4 linked regions of the Homo sapiens genome follow. The protein of the gene in region 1 purifies or fractionates together with the protein of each later gene. This does not show direct contact. Each region holds a gene or a part of one and is shown in the gene's direction. Other genes may lie near its edges.

The links. Proteins that work in one complex are often made in the same cells at the same time.
Region 2: the proteins of PCDHB11 (region 1) and PDZD8 purify together in Homo sapiens (affinity purification with mass spectrometry; 2 studies listed by BioGRID and IntAct, with this or other methods). This does not show direct contact.
Region 3: the proteins of PCDHB11 (region 1) and XRCC1 purify together in Homo sapiens (affinity purification with mass spectrometry; 2 studies listed by BioGRID and IntAct, with this or other methods). This does not show direct contact.
Region 4: the proteins of PCDHB11 (region 1) and EMILIN2 purify together in Homo sapiens (affinity purification with mass spectrometry; 2 studies listed by BioGRID and IntAct, with this or other methods). This does not show direct contact.

The regions. Positions count from the first base shown.
Region 1 is NC_000005.10:141,198,488-141,202,426, forward strand, and holds the start of PCDHB11 (protocadherin beta-11 precursor), read left to right. Parts: upstream 1-1,139; 5' UTR 1,140-1,287; coding exon 1,288-3,681; 3' UTR 3,682-3,939. UniProt on the Homo sapiens protein: Potential calcium-dependent cell-adhesion protein. May be involved in the establishment and maintenance of specific neuronal connections in the brain.
Region 2 is NC_000010.11:117,288,441-117,291,940, reverse strand, and holds part of PDZD8 (PDZ domain-containing protein 8), read left to right. Parts: intron 1-1,592; coding exon 1,593-1,755; intron 1,756-3,500. UniProt on the Homo sapiens protein: Molecular tethering protein that connects endoplasmic reticulum and mitochondria membranes. PDZD8-dependent endoplasmic reticulum-mitochondria membrane tethering is essential for endoplasmic reticulum-mitochondria Ca(2+) transfer.
Region 3 is NC_000019.10:43,548,028-43,551,527, reverse strand, and holds part of XRCC1 (DNA repair protein XRCC1), read left to right. Parts: intron 1-3,500. UniProt on the Homo sapiens protein: Scaffold protein involved in DNA single-strand break repair by mediating the assembly of DNA break repair protein complexes. Negatively regulates ADP-ribosyltransferase activity of PARP1 during base-excision repair in order to prevent excessive PARP1 activity.
Region 4 is NC_000018.10:2,853,506-2,857,005, forward strand, and holds part of EMILIN2 (EMILIN-2 precursor), read left to right. Parts: intron 1-3,500. UniProt on the Homo sapiens protein: May be responsible for anchoring smooth muscle cells to elastic fibers, and may be involved not only in the formation of the elastic fiber, but also in the processes that regulate vessel assembly. Has cell adhesive capacity.

The DNA.
Region 1 (3,939 bases):
CATTATTGAGAGTACTTTGAGATGTCTAACAGTGGATACCATTGGTAGTTTCCAAGCACCTATTCCAACTATCTCCCTCATTATGCCATGCACTTTGGCTAGGACTGAAACCACCTCAAGTTTAAGGGGCAATCTCTGCCTGGATTAAAACAAAGGGTCAAAGATGGAGTCTTTAGATTCTGGGACTATAATCTCTACCTTTAATCCTATACATCTTGAGACACTGATTTCTTCAGTAACAGGCTGAAGTGCTCTCAGTTGGTCTAATCAGAATGAAGGCTAAGATTTTGTTCTATTATTGAGGAAGAAAATATCTCTCATTCTGTCTTCTTGAGCTGAAAAACAAAGCAGATAGCCATAGATGTTGCTGGAATAAATCTTGGGAAACTGAGGGAGGGCAGTCTTAGAAATAAGCCTGCTTTAAATGAAACTAACATGCTTGTGCTTGTGTATTTATTATTTTTTGAGAAGCTGGAACTAAATCAAGGATTCTCATAATGTGTTCTACTCCCAATATCTTACTTTACTTTCTAGCAGTTCACAATTCCTTGCTACCAAGGAAATCTATATAAATGCCTTCTTGTGCTATCATAACTATCAAAGTATGTCCCATCTCATGGTTAATCCAGTTTCATATCCTCTGAGAGGACTTCTAAAATGACCCATGTATAGTTTGCCTTTTCATTACCACCTAAGGAAAGTCAAGTAGTGATAGAATTTTGTACAGCTTAAAAATATTATGGTTGTTTTATGTTTCCAGTCTTCTCAGAAAGATTACAAACCACTGGGAGCCAGGAATCACATCTTGTATTTCTGTATTCACCACAACTAAGCACGTTTGGTTGTATGGAGAAGGGGGAAAGATAAATGCTTTAAGATGAATATTAACAGCATATCAAACTAAAGAGAATATGAAATAATTATTACAGAACGTGCAATATATTTGTAATCACTTGAACACAATGAATAAAACAATATTTGTTTCCGGAGGACATATAAGTGAATGGAATTTAGGTAGCTTTCACCAAACTGTGAAAATCTATGGAGACACTTGGTGGCGCTGCAGGATAACATCGTGAAAAATATATTCACTGGATGGCGTTGTGAACACTGATATCCAGTGCACACAGAGAATCAGAAGACAGAAACAACAAGCCTTCAAGAGGGTGACCTGGAAACCATTCAACAGGGTTAAAATCCTTAGACCACAGAGGATTTGGTGGACAAGTCAGAGACGCGTTCCGCAGAGCTGAAGCCTTTCTTCAAGAAGCCTACAAGAAAGGAACTATGGAGAACCAAGGGACACGCACTCAGCAGATAAGGCAAGTCCTGCTTCTCTTTGTTTTGCTCGGAATGTCTCAGGCGGGCTCTGAAACCTGGAGCTTTTCTGTGGCAGAAGAAATGCAGAGCGGGAGTTTTGTAGGCAATCTGGCAAAGGACCTGGGGCTGAAGGTGAGAGAACTGTCCTCACGGGGGGCTCGGGTGGTCTCTAATGATAAGAAACAGCGTTTGCAGCTGGACATAAACACTGGGGATTTGCTCTTAAGTGAAACACTAGACAGGGAGGAGCTCTGCGGTTCCATCGAGCCTTGCGTGCTACATTTGCAGGTGTTAATGCAAAACCCCACGCAGTTTTTACAAATTGAGCTTCAGGTCAGGGATATAAATGATCACTCTCCCATCTTCTCGGAAAAACAAATGCTCCTAGAAATCCCAGAGAACAGTCCCGTTGGTGCTGTGTTCTTACTAGAAAGTGCGAAGGATTTAGATGTAGGAATCAATGCTGTAAAAAGCTACACAATAAGCCCCAACTCTCATTTTCACATTAAAATGAGAGTCATTCCAGACAATAGGAAATACCCCGAGTTAGTTCTGGACAAGGCGCTGGATTATGAAGAGCTCCCGGAGCTCAGTTTCATCCTCTCTGCTCTGGATGGTGGGTCCCCTCCCAGGTCTGGAACTGCCTTGGTCAGGGTGGTGGTTGTGGACATTAATGACAACTCCCCTGAATTTGAGCAGGCTTTTTATGAGGTGAAGATTCGGGAGAATAGCATCCTTGGCTCGCTGATTTTGATTGTCTCAGCTTGGGATTTAGACTCTGGAACAAATGGTGAAATATGCTATACCTTTTCCCATGCCTCAGAAGATATTCGCAAGACATTTGAAATTAATCAAAAGTCTGGAGAAATTACTTTAAGAGCACCTCTGGATTTTGAAACGATTGAGTCATACTCAATAATCATTCAAGCCACAGATGGGGGAGGACTTTTTGGAAAATCTACAGTCATAATTCACGTGATAGATGTAAATGACAATGCTCCTGAAATCACTGTGTCATCAATTACCAGTCCAATCCCAGAAAATACGCCAGAGACCGTGGTTATGGTTTTTAGTATCCAAGATATAGACTCTGGGGACAACGGAAGAATTGTTTGTTCCATTCCGGAAGACCTCCCATTCGTGCTAAAATCTTCAGTTGAGAATTACTACACGTTGGAAACAGAGAGACCACTGGACAGAGAGAGCACAGCCGAGTACAATATCACCATCACCGTCACCGACTTGGGGATACCCAGGCTGAAAACCGAGCACAACACAACTGTGTTGGTCTCTGACGTCAATGACAACGCCCCCACCTTCACCCAAACCTCCTACACCCTGTTCGTCCGCGAGAACAACAGCCCCGCCCTGCACATCGGCAGTGTCAGCGCTACAGACAGAGACTCAGGCACCAACGCCCAGGTCAACTACTCGCTACTCCCGCCCCAGGACCTGCACCTGCCCCTCGCCTCCCTGGTCTCCATCAACACAGACAACGGCCACCTGTTCGCCCTCAGGTCGCTGGACTACGAGGCCCTGCAGGCTTTCGACTTCCGCGTGGGCGCCACAGACCGCGGCTCCCCGGCTTTGAGCAGCGAGGCGCTGGTGCGCGTGCTGGTGCTGGACGCCAACGACAACTCGCCCTTCGTGCTGTACCCGCTGCAGAACGGCTCCGCGCCCTGCACCGAGCTGGTGCCCCGGGCGGCCGAGCCGGGCTACCTGGTGACCAAGGTGGTGGCGGTGGACGGCGACTCGGGCCAGAACGCCTGGCTGTCGTACCAGCTGCTCAAGGCCACGGAGCCCGGGCTATTCGGCGTGTGGGCGCACAATGGCGAGGTGCGCACCGCCAGGCTGCTGAGCGAGCGCGACGCGGCCAAGCACAGGCTGGTGGTGCTGGTCAAGGACAATGGCGAGCCTCCGCGCTCGGCCACCGCCACGCTGCAAGTGCTCCTGGTGGACGGCTTCTCCCAGCCCTACCTGCCGCTCCCTGAGGCGGCACCGGCCCAGGCCCAGGCCGACTCGCTCACCGTCTACTTGGTGGTGGCGTTGGCCTCGGTGTCTTCGCTCTTCCTCTTCTCGGTGCTCCTGTTCGTGGCGGTGCGGCTGTGCAGGAGGAGCAGGGCGGCCTCGGTGGGAAGCTGCTCGGTGCCTAAGGGCCCCTTTCCAGGGCATCTGGTGGACGTGAGCGGCACCGGGACCCTTTCCCAGAGCTACCAGTACGAGGTGTGTCTGACGGGAGGTTCCGAGACAAATGAATTCAAGTTCCTAAAACCGGTTATCCCTAATATCCAGGCAAAAGGTCTTGGGAAGAATAGTGAAGAAAACTCCACCTTTCGAAATAGCTTTGGATTTAATTTTTAGTAAGAATGCTATTTACATTTGCATGTACTTTTTTAGTTTTATGTAACCATATCAATATTATTTAGTCTTAAACTAGTTACGTTATTATGCAATACGACTAATTGTATTTTTAATTTTTTCTTTTCTCCCCCAATTTTTTTTTTTTTTTTGAGACCGAGTCTCATTCTGTCGCCCTGGCTGGAGTGCAATGGTGTGATCTCAGCTCACTGCACCCTCCGCCTCTCGGGTTCAAGCAATTCTCCTGCATCAGCCTCCCGA
Region 2 (3,500 bases), on another chromosome or scaffold:
CTGATTTGTAATTGAGCGCCATAAACACTAATTGAATCCTTGTCAACAGCTGGGATGTAGCACTCTGCCTGTTTTTTTTTTTTAAATCAGTTGTTTGAATGAGGACACATAGCATGATGATGTTGTTGTTAATTCACAGATGATGTTAATCTAGTATCCACATTCCTGAAAATTGGATGGCAGGTTTATTTAGAAAACAAAATGATCTTGATGGGTTAGAATAGGACATCTCATTAACAATGTAACTTTTTTTTTTTAAATAAAGATGGGGTCTCACCATGTTGCCCAGGTTGGTCTTGAACTCCTGGGCTCAAATGGTCCTCCCACCTCAGCCCTCCTTAGTAGCTGCGATTACAGGTGTGCACCACCATCCCCATCATCCCCACCACATGATAACTCTTTTTTTTTTTCTGAGGTGGAGTCTCGCTTTGTTGCCCGGGCTGGAGTGCAGTGGTGTGATCTCAGCTCACTTCAACCTCTGCCTCCCGGGTTCATGCCATTCTCCTGCCTCAGGCTCCCGAGTAGCTGGGACTACAGGCACTGCCACCACGCCTGGCTAATTTTTTGTATTTTTAGTAGAGACGGGGTTTCACCGTGTTAGCCAGGATTGTCTTAATCTCCTGACCTCCTGATCCGCCCACCTCGGCCTCCCAAGTGCTGGGATTACAGGCGTGAACCACTGTGCCCGGCCGATAACTCTTAATAAAGTATAAATGTAAACTCTTTTCCTTTGCCTATTCCCAAAAAAGAAACTTGAAGAATACACTGGCCGGGTGGGATGGCTCACGCCTTTAATCCTAGCACTTTGGGAGGCTGAGGTGGGCGGATCACTTGAGCCCAGAAGTTTGAGACCAGCCTGGGCAACAGTGGTGAAACCCGATCTCTACACAAAAAAATACAAAAACTTGCCAGGCGTAGTGGTGCACGCCTGTAGTCCCAGCTGCTTGGGAGGCTGAGGTGAGAGAATCACTTGCGCCTGGGAGGTGGAGGTTGCAGTGAGCCAGGATTGTGCCACTGCATTCCAGCCTAGGTGACAGAGTGAGACCCTGTCTCAAAAAAAAAAAAAAAAAAAAAAAGGATACACCATACAAAATGGAGTTTCCAAAGCACATATTATGAATGACATAGATCATTTTCATTATATTTGAAAAAAGCAAGATTCAGAATTATATTCATGATTATAATTGTATTGACTACTATGTCTCAGTATTATTGAGACAAATCTCAATTTTGTGTTAAATATATATTAGAAAATATATAGAATAGTTCTAGATTGTATAATTAGGAATGGTTTTCTTTTTATTTTGCCTTTCTGTTTATTTCCCAATTTTCTACAATGAGCATGGAGCAAGGAGTAATAATAAAACACATTGAAGATAAAGTGTTTAATTTTTTTGATGATTTAAATGTGTAGCCTAAGGATAGTTAATTTATATTGTTACAGTAAAGATTTTCTCCTTCCTTTATTTGCCATGATAGAAAAGTCAGCATCAGCCATGGTGCTCTCTGCACATAACAGTCTGTTACTGTTTTTTTCCTCTATTACTAGGAATCCATTGAATCAGTTTTCATTTTTTTCCCCTTTATCAAAGGTTGAATTAATAAAAGGAAATTTACAAAGTGTTGGACTTACACTTCGTCTTGTCCAGTCAACTGATGGGTATGCTGGGCACGTCATCATTGAAACTGTGGCTCCAAACTCGCCTGCTGCAATTGCAGATCTTCAGCGGGGAGATCGACTTATCGCCATTGGAGGTAATTATGCTAATATGCATTATACTTTACCTTTACAGATAAACTACAAAGTAGGTGTGAGGTTTTTCCTTTCTTCCTTTTTCCTTATTTCTATAATATGCATATGTCACTTTTATAATGGAAATAAAGTAATAAACTTTATTATAAATAAAAATTCAAAGGAGGCCTTCAAAATACATTTAAAACATACATGCCATTTTAGTTCTAGTGTATAAATCTTTAAAATACTTTGTTTAGACCACTTTTATATAACCACTCTAATCCTTCCCTTCCCACCTTCTACTACTCTATTTATTTTTTCTTGAATGTGAAAGTAAGGGCAAATAAACAGGTTATCTTTCTGTACGACTACCACCATTGCTACTCTGAACCTAAAATTGGTAGTATTAGCACTACTGCCCCCATCACTTAGCACTAGATGATGAGCAGAAGAACCAACATTCCTTTTCCAGGAGGGCACATCTGAACTGTCCTGTGATCCTGTGTCATCTAAATGGCCAGCCATTTGTTAGTATGTTGTTGCTCAGAATTCAGCCCAAATCACTGGTGGAAAAATGTGTCACTTACATGCCTTCCTATCACTTGGATTGTTAACAGTAAAAACTCTCTGAAGATAGCAGGTTATTTGCTTGTATATAAATGTCTAAGCAGTAGGACTCACTGTGCACAGCAGTGAGGGGAAAGTCCAAGCCTTTTCAACCTTTGTAGTACCTGTCCCATCTATTCTAGGCTTGTTGAGAGATTTCTTGAACATATGGTTGGTCACAGTTGATCTGAAAAGGGCAATGTGATATTTTCTTTCACAGCTTAGACAATAAATAAGTTAGAACAGTTCCCAAATCAAGGTGCAGTTGTCCTTGGTTACATGTCAAAGAAACTCTGCCTTTGATTCAAATCCACCTTGACAATAAAATAATGAAAATTATTTAGTTGCATATCTGGGAGCCCAATTAAGTCAATATTTTCACATGGGAATCTCTGATCATGGCATAAGCAGTGCTTCTCAGACTTTCCCATGTATGCCAGTCACCCAGACCTGATGTTAAAATGTGCATTCTGAATCAGGAGACCTGTAGTGAGGCCCAAGATTCTTCATTTCTCACAGACTCCTCCCAAATGATGATGCTTATGCATAAACACTTAGGGAGGCATAAAATAGACATCATTCATTATATTAATATCATTTAATATTTTGGTTTTAGCTACAGGATAAAATTAATTTTTTCGGTCTTTTTTGGGGGTTGTGTTTCAATTACACAAGTAGTAAATACCTATTATCAAAAATAAATTAATTAACCTAAGCGATATAAATGTATACAGAGTGAAAAAGCAAAAGTCATCCCTTGACATCTAACATTTGTTAATTACAATAACAACAGGCCGGGCTCAGTGGCTCATGCCTGTAATCCCAGCACTTTGGGAGGCCGAGGCGGGTGGATCACCTGAGGTCAGGAGTTCGAGACCAGCCTGGCCAACATGGTGAAACCCATCTCTACTGAAAATATGAAAATTAGCTGGGCATGGTGGCAGGCGCCTGTAATCCCAGCTACTCAGGAGGCTGAGGCAGGAGAATTGCTTGAACCTGGGAGGCAGAGGTTGCAGTGAGCTGAGATCATACCATTGCACTCCAGCCTGGGCAACAAGAGCGAAACTCCATCTCAAATAATAATAATAATATGTATTAAGATGAAGGGCAGATACAATACACATTCATTGTTTTAAAAAAAAGAAAAACCTTGGAACAT
Region 3 (3,500 bases), on another chromosome or scaffold:
CAATGCCAGGAATCTGGAGGGGAGTCAGACTGGGGCCTGCCAGCGGAGAACACAGGTGGTCCCAGCCCAGAGCCAGCAGACTACTGAGAGGAGCGGGGCAGGGGCTGGGGTACTCCAGATGAGGGAAGGAGGACCTGCCTGGGAGGTCACAGAGGGCTCTGTGAAGCCTGCTTATCAGAAAAGGCTGGAGGAGCAGTTTGTGCAAAAACTCAGGGGTGGGAGAACAAGTGTTAGGGTCCATATTCATTCATTCAAAGTGAGTCCCGGTGCAGTGGCTCACGCCTGTAATCCCAGCACTCTGGGAGGCTGAGGCAGGTGGATCACTTGAGGTCAGAAGTTCGAGACCAGCCTGGCCAACATGGTGAAACCCCATCTCTACTAAAAACACAAAAATTAGCTGGGCTTGGTGGCGCACGCCTGTAATCCCAGTTACTCGGAAGGCTGAGGCAGGAGAATCGCTTGAACCTGGAAGCCAAAATCGTGCCACTGCACTCTGGCCTGGGTGACAGAGCGAGACTCCCATCTCAACAAGAAAAAAAAAACCCAAAAACCAAAATGAGTCCCAGAAGCCCCTGCTTGGTGCCAGGCTGGAATGTGCAAGGCTGAGGATCCAGTCATTGAGCCCTGCCCTTGAAGGCTTCTCACTTTGATGAGGGATCAGAATTGTTGTAACAGTGCAGTGGAAGCCCCACAGGGTGGCCCGCAGAGAGCGAGGGGTCTTCAAGGTCCAAGAGAGGTTTTTCAGGCTGAACAGAGGCAGAGAACATGCTGGGCAGAGGAGACAAGGTCAGGTCAGCCTGTTGTCTGCCTGGAGTTGTAGGTGAGGCTGAGCTTACACAGGGGCAAGAAGTGGCAGGAAAAATGGGACTGGGGCATTAGGAACCACAGAAGGCTTTGGACTGAGCAAAGGCTAGCTCATATCTGAGGTCCATGAATTGGAGGGGAGACTGGATTGTACTCCATGGCCTGAGTGTGTTCAGAAGTTAGTTGTACCTGGTGTATTTGAGAAATTATTTGCCTTGGGGGATAGCGAGGCTGTGAGGTGGGTGGGCTCAGGTCAGAAGGGGCTTCCGGAGCCCAGGCTACACACTGGGCTCCATGCAGCTTCACAGAACCCTCATCTGTTATTCAGGAATCCAAACATCTCTAGAAGCTGAAAGTTCTTTTCTAGGTTCAGCACAAACTCATTTCGCTGCAGTCATCCTGAACTAATGTGAGGCTATTTGCGGACTTTTTTTTTTTTATCCCCTTAAGTGTGTCATGGTCTTAACTGCAGAAATATTAGTGGGTTTGATCATGGGGTGCTCCCCCAGGCCCTCCTGGGAGTTTATGTAACAATCTGTATGCCAGCCATTTGCCTCTCTAAAACCTGAAAGATTCAAAATTCTGAAGCCCATCCAGCTCCAGAGGCCTCCTCTTGTGAGCAGAGGGGAGTCACAGAAGGTTTGATGGGGGCAGGGGCAGGCTCTGTTGGGAGGGATGAAGTGTCAAGGGGAGGCTGCAGGTGGGGACTCCTGAGTAGGCTGGGGCCTCAGGAACAGAAGAGGGGATGGGCTGGTGCTATATCTGGGGCAGAAGGAACCAGATTTGGGTTATTATCTGCCTGGGAGAGCTTAAGGAGGGCATGAAAGAAAGGGAAAAAGACAAACAGTGTTGGATTTGCAACTGGTCTTAACAAAAAGAATTCACAAAGCATTTTATATTTTTAAAAATTCTGGCTTGTACTCATTTATAAACTAAAAAAAAATAACTATATGATGCAGGCAACGTGGTGAGACCCCATCCCTACAAAACATGAAAAAAATTATCCAGGTGTGGTGGCACATACCTGTAGTCGTAGATACTTGGGAGGCTGAGGTGGTAGGATCACTTGAGCCCAGGAGGTTCAGGCTGCAATGAGCCATGATTGCACCGCTGCACTCCAGTCTAGGTGGCAAATCAAGACCTTATCTCAAAAATAAAAATTTGGCTGAGTGCAGTGGCTCACGCCTGTAATCCCAGCACTTTGGGAGGCCAAGGTGGGCAGATCACGTGACATCAGGAGTTTGAGACCAGCCTGGCCAACATGGTAAAACCCCATCTGTACCAAAAAATACAAAAATTAGCTGGGCATGGTGGCGCACACCTGTAGCCCCAGCTACTCTAGAGGCTGAGGCAGGAGAATCCCTTGAACCTGGGAGGAAGGGGTTGAAGTGAGTCGAGATCATGCCACTGCACTCCAGCCTGGGGACAGAGCGAGACTCTGTCTCAAAAAATAAAAATAAAATAAAAATTCAACTATAGAAGGAAGACCCCAAGAGGATGACTCTCCATACCTAATAAGCACAAATTTAGTTTTTTTTTTAATCTTTGAATAGAGCACTTTGAAGAAAAAGTTAAGTAAACCTGCTATTGACTGTTAATGAACTACTACATTTTAAATCCTCTGAATCTCCTGTAGGCACCGTTTTATGAGTGTGACTTACCTAAACAGCATTTCACCAGCTTGAAAACAACCAAATTAAATGCAGAAGGGTCTTAACATGTATGTCTCAGAAAAATGGAGCTAATACATTCATTTGTGTCTGCATACCTTCCCTGTGGCTTAGGGCAGATTAAATAATCTCTCTGTGCCTTAGTCTCCTCACCTGTAAAATGGGGCCAAAAATAGGACCTACCCCAGGATTCAGTGACTCAGTATTTGTCACGTGCTACCTGGCATGTAGGAAGTCCCATGTAAGTGTCAACCTGCTACTGTTGTGTTTTTTTTTTTTTTTTTTTTGATCATTCTTGGGTGTTTCTCACAGAGGGGGATTTGGCAGGGTCATAGGACAATAGTGAAGGGAAGGTCAGCAGATAAACAAGTGAACAAAGGTCTCTGGCTTTCCTAGGCAGAGGACCCTGCGGCCTTCCGCAGTGTTTGTGTCCCTGGGTACTTGAGATTAGGGAGTGGTGATGACTCTTAATGAGCATGCTGCCTTCAAGCATCTGTTTAACAAAGCACATCTTGCACCGCCCTTAATCCATTTAACCCTGAGTGGACACAACACATGTTTCAGAGAGCACAGGGTTGAGGGTAAGGTCATAGATTAACAGCATCCCAAGGCAGAAGAATTTTTCTTAGTACAGAACAAAATGAAGTCTCCCATGTCTACTTCTTTCTACACAGACACAGCAACAATCTGATTTCTCTATCTTTTCCCCACCTTTCCCCCTTTTCTATTCCACAAAACCGCCATCGTCATCATGGCCCGTTCTCAATGAGCTGTTGGGTACACCTCCCAGACGGGGTGGTGGCCAGGCAGAGGGGCTCCTCACTTCCCAGAAGGGGCGGCCGGGCAGAGGCGCCCCCCACCTCCCGGACGGGGCGGCGGCCGGGCGGAGGCGCCCCCCACCTCCCTCCTGGAGGGGCGGCTGGCCGGGCGGGGGCTGACCCCCCCACCTCCCTCCCGGATGGGGCGGCTGGCCCCCCACCTCCCCCCCGACGGGGCGGCTGGCCCCCCACCTCCCTCCCGGACGGG
Region 4 (3,500 bases), on another chromosome or scaffold:
GGGATTGAGGCTGACCGCAGTGGGAATATTTCCTTAAAGTGCATCGTGAGAATGTGACGAGCCCTGCCATGTTCATTGTTTTCCATTCTTATAGCAACCCTCTGGGGTCACTACCCCCATTTTACAGGAGGGCAAGTAGTTAGGAAGCAGCAGAGCCTGCCTTCAAACCCAGGCCTGTTATTTTCAAGCCTCGCACTCCTCCCGCTCCACACCTGGCAGCCCCTGGAGGTCTCAATCCACAGCCGGGCTGAGCACCCTGAGGGTGCATGTGTGATGCCTACCGCAGCGGGTGCTGCATTGCCAGCCTCCCTGTCAGGGTGGAATGGCAGGAGGGAAGGGCCTGACATTTCTTACAGCCTCCAATACCCATTGGTAGTGTTTGGACGTACGGCTGGTAGAAAACAGCACCGTGTTTCTTCTCTTTATTGGACTGGCGTTGTTTTCTTTCATGCTTCCAAATTGTCCCATCACCTCCTGCTCAGCCTGATGGTTTTAGTATTGGGGGCTTTGGGAGGTGTCTGGTCCACAGATAGCCTGCATTGTTGGTGAAGACATCCAAGGACCCCAGAGGTGAGGCAGGATTATTCCCTCTGAGTTCACTTTGCCTCCCAACTCAGGGCTGAGTTTCTGTAGGGCCCAGAGTTTTCTCTTTCTGACACCACACACTGACTTGGGCTTATCAGCATCTGGCCACCTCCCCCCTCAGCCCCTCGAGGCCTGTGTTGTATCTTGGTGGAATTTTTCCTATTAGCTCTTTTTCTAAAAAGATCTTACCAGTCGGGGGAGGGATCTGGGTGGGGCCAACACACAGAGCCTGTGCTGCTGAGATAAGGCCTGCCAGGAATTTGCAGCAGGTGTTGAGTTCCGTGGAGTTCAGGACACCTCTAATCCTCCTCAGGTTCCGAGGGGAGCAGATGGTTGTTCAGTTGGCAGAAAATTTGTCTTATTAGGGAGTAACCTCAGCCAGGAAATGTGGCTTAAAACACACACACACACAGAACATTTGGCTGGGCGTGGTGGCTCATGCTTATAATTCCAGCACTTTGGGAGGCTGAGGCAAGAGGATCGCTTGAACCCAGGAGTTCAAGACCAGCCTGATTAACATAGTGAGACCTTGTCTTTACAAAAAATAGAATAAACTAGCTGGGTATGGTGCTACGTGCCTGTAGTCCCAGCTACTGGAGAGGCTGAGGCGGGAGGATTGCTTGAGCCTGGGAGTTGAAGGCTGCAGTGAGCCATGATTGCAGTACTGCACTGAGGCGTGGATGACAGAGTCAAAAACAAAACAAACAAAAAAACCCAGAACAGAACATGTAAGGCTGCAGGGATCGGGGGAAAGAAAATGAGGGCTTACATCTTCCAGAGCCAGTTTTCTGTTTTCTACATCTCCAGGAACAGAATAACTTTCAGTTCAAAAAGTACCTTTTGTGTATAGCTTTGGGGGAATTTTCTTTCCTTCAGCTTTTAAACAAAAGTTTCGCCATCAATTGGCTGTTAGGAGGCTTGTTCCTTGGCATCGGAGGTAACTTGGAGTCAGCTGAGGAAGACTGAGCTCGTGTCAGAGACTCCTGCACGGGAGGGCTGGAATCCCAGGCGCCCAGCCCTCGAGAGCTGCAGACTGTTGCTATTTTGAGTTTCTTTCTTTGGGTTTCCATTCCTTATGGGCCCCTTGGGGCTGCTCCCTAGAATCTCCAGACCTTCCTTTCAGGTTTCTTATTTCTCTTGTTCCTGTCTCCTTCCTAGGTTCCCAGTGGAGGAGATGCCATGCTTGCAGGGCCCTTCGGCATTTCCAGAACATTTCCACACCATTATTTTATTCTTACCACAAGTTCAGCCAGGAGACTAGGCAGGGCCGAGACTGGGGCCTTGGAAAAAGAACTTCATGCTGAGGGGCTACACTTTCTACCTTCGTCTTACACAACAGTGAATAGCATTCAAATAGGGGTAATGGCCTTACGAAAAGCAGCCTGCTTTTTGTTAGAACTTGTCTTAATTAAGCTCCGTAACTGGTCTTCCTCTGTTGATGTGTTCCACCCACGGTGGCACGTGGTATTTGAGTTAAAATCCTGAGGTAGCCGGAAAAGGGGAGGCAGGTGGGGCCAGGCTGCAGAGAACGGCAAGTGGGTGGGAACTCCATCCAGGTTGGGTGGGTGGCTGACGTGCTTCGGAAGAGGAGACAGAAGAGTTGTCCTACAGCCTGACATCTCCCACCACCAAGCTGTGTGATCACAGGCGAGTCACTTAGCCCGTCTGAGGCACACTTTCCTCACGTCTACATGACAGGGTTGTGGGGAGGAGGCCCCAGTGCGGGAACACAGCTGACAGAACTTTTAAAAATTGCGCTGTCACACTAACGTACTGCATACCCAGCAGGCACGTCTGGTGAACACTCACCGTTTTCATTGTTTGTCGGTTTGGAATGTTATTGCCTCACAGGTGATTTTATCTTTGAGGACTTTGGGTTTGAAGTTAATGCTTACGGACACATTGGAGAAAGGCTAAAATGCTCACGGTTGAAATCGTTAAATTCAGTGAATTAAGATAATAATGATGCTGGCTTGCCTAAGATGAACTTTAAGTGAAGCTCAGCCGGGCACGGTAGTATGTTCCTGTAATTCCAGCTACTCGGGAGGCTGAGGCGGGAGGATCGCTTGAGTCAAGGAGTTTGAATCCAGCCTGGGCAACATAGTGAGACCCCCCTCTCTAAAAAATAAAATAAAATTTAAGTGTAAAAAAATTAAGTGAAATTCTTAGAAATTGCACTGGAAGCCGAGCCAGCAGTGCAGTCTCTTTGGGGAAATGCACATAAGTGATTATGGTCAAAGTCAGTGCTGAAGTAGCCTGTGGGTATTTCTTACTGGTTCTGCAGGTGTCTGTGTGCCTGGAGTAGGTCAGTAAAGAAAGGTTAGCTAGATGGTGGATGTTGCTGTGAGTGGTGGTAAACTAGTGCCAATCCCCAGGTGATCTATCCCACCGCCCCTAATGTGTTCCTTGAATTCTTTTAGAAAAAAATCCTCTTCCTCGTGTGCCTAATATTGTTGTTACTAACATGTGCTGCGTGTACATAATGAAGTAGGTGCCGCATCCAACAGTTACACAGAACTTTACATCCTGTCTTTAAAAATCAAAAGCGGGGAAACCGTACCAGTGGTGAGGTTCCTTCTAGTCTCCCACACAAATGTTCTGATTTATCATTGGCCGCGTGACTTCTTTACTGCTCAGCGTTAACTACTTCCATCCTTGATGAAGTAGTTTTCTGGGCTTAAAAATAACAACAAACCACTTGATAACATGGTACAGCTGAGCATGATTTCTCCTTACAAAGAACCATTTTCCTGGGAGAATCGAGGGAGGAGCCCCTTATTTTTCAACATGACAGCAGTTCACACTGAAGGGAAAATAATGAAATGACTAAAACTAAACATGCCAGTAAGTTTTCTTCTTTCCTTCCTGTTTTAAAATGGTGATGAGGGCTGAAACAAAGTAGGGAGCATTCAAAT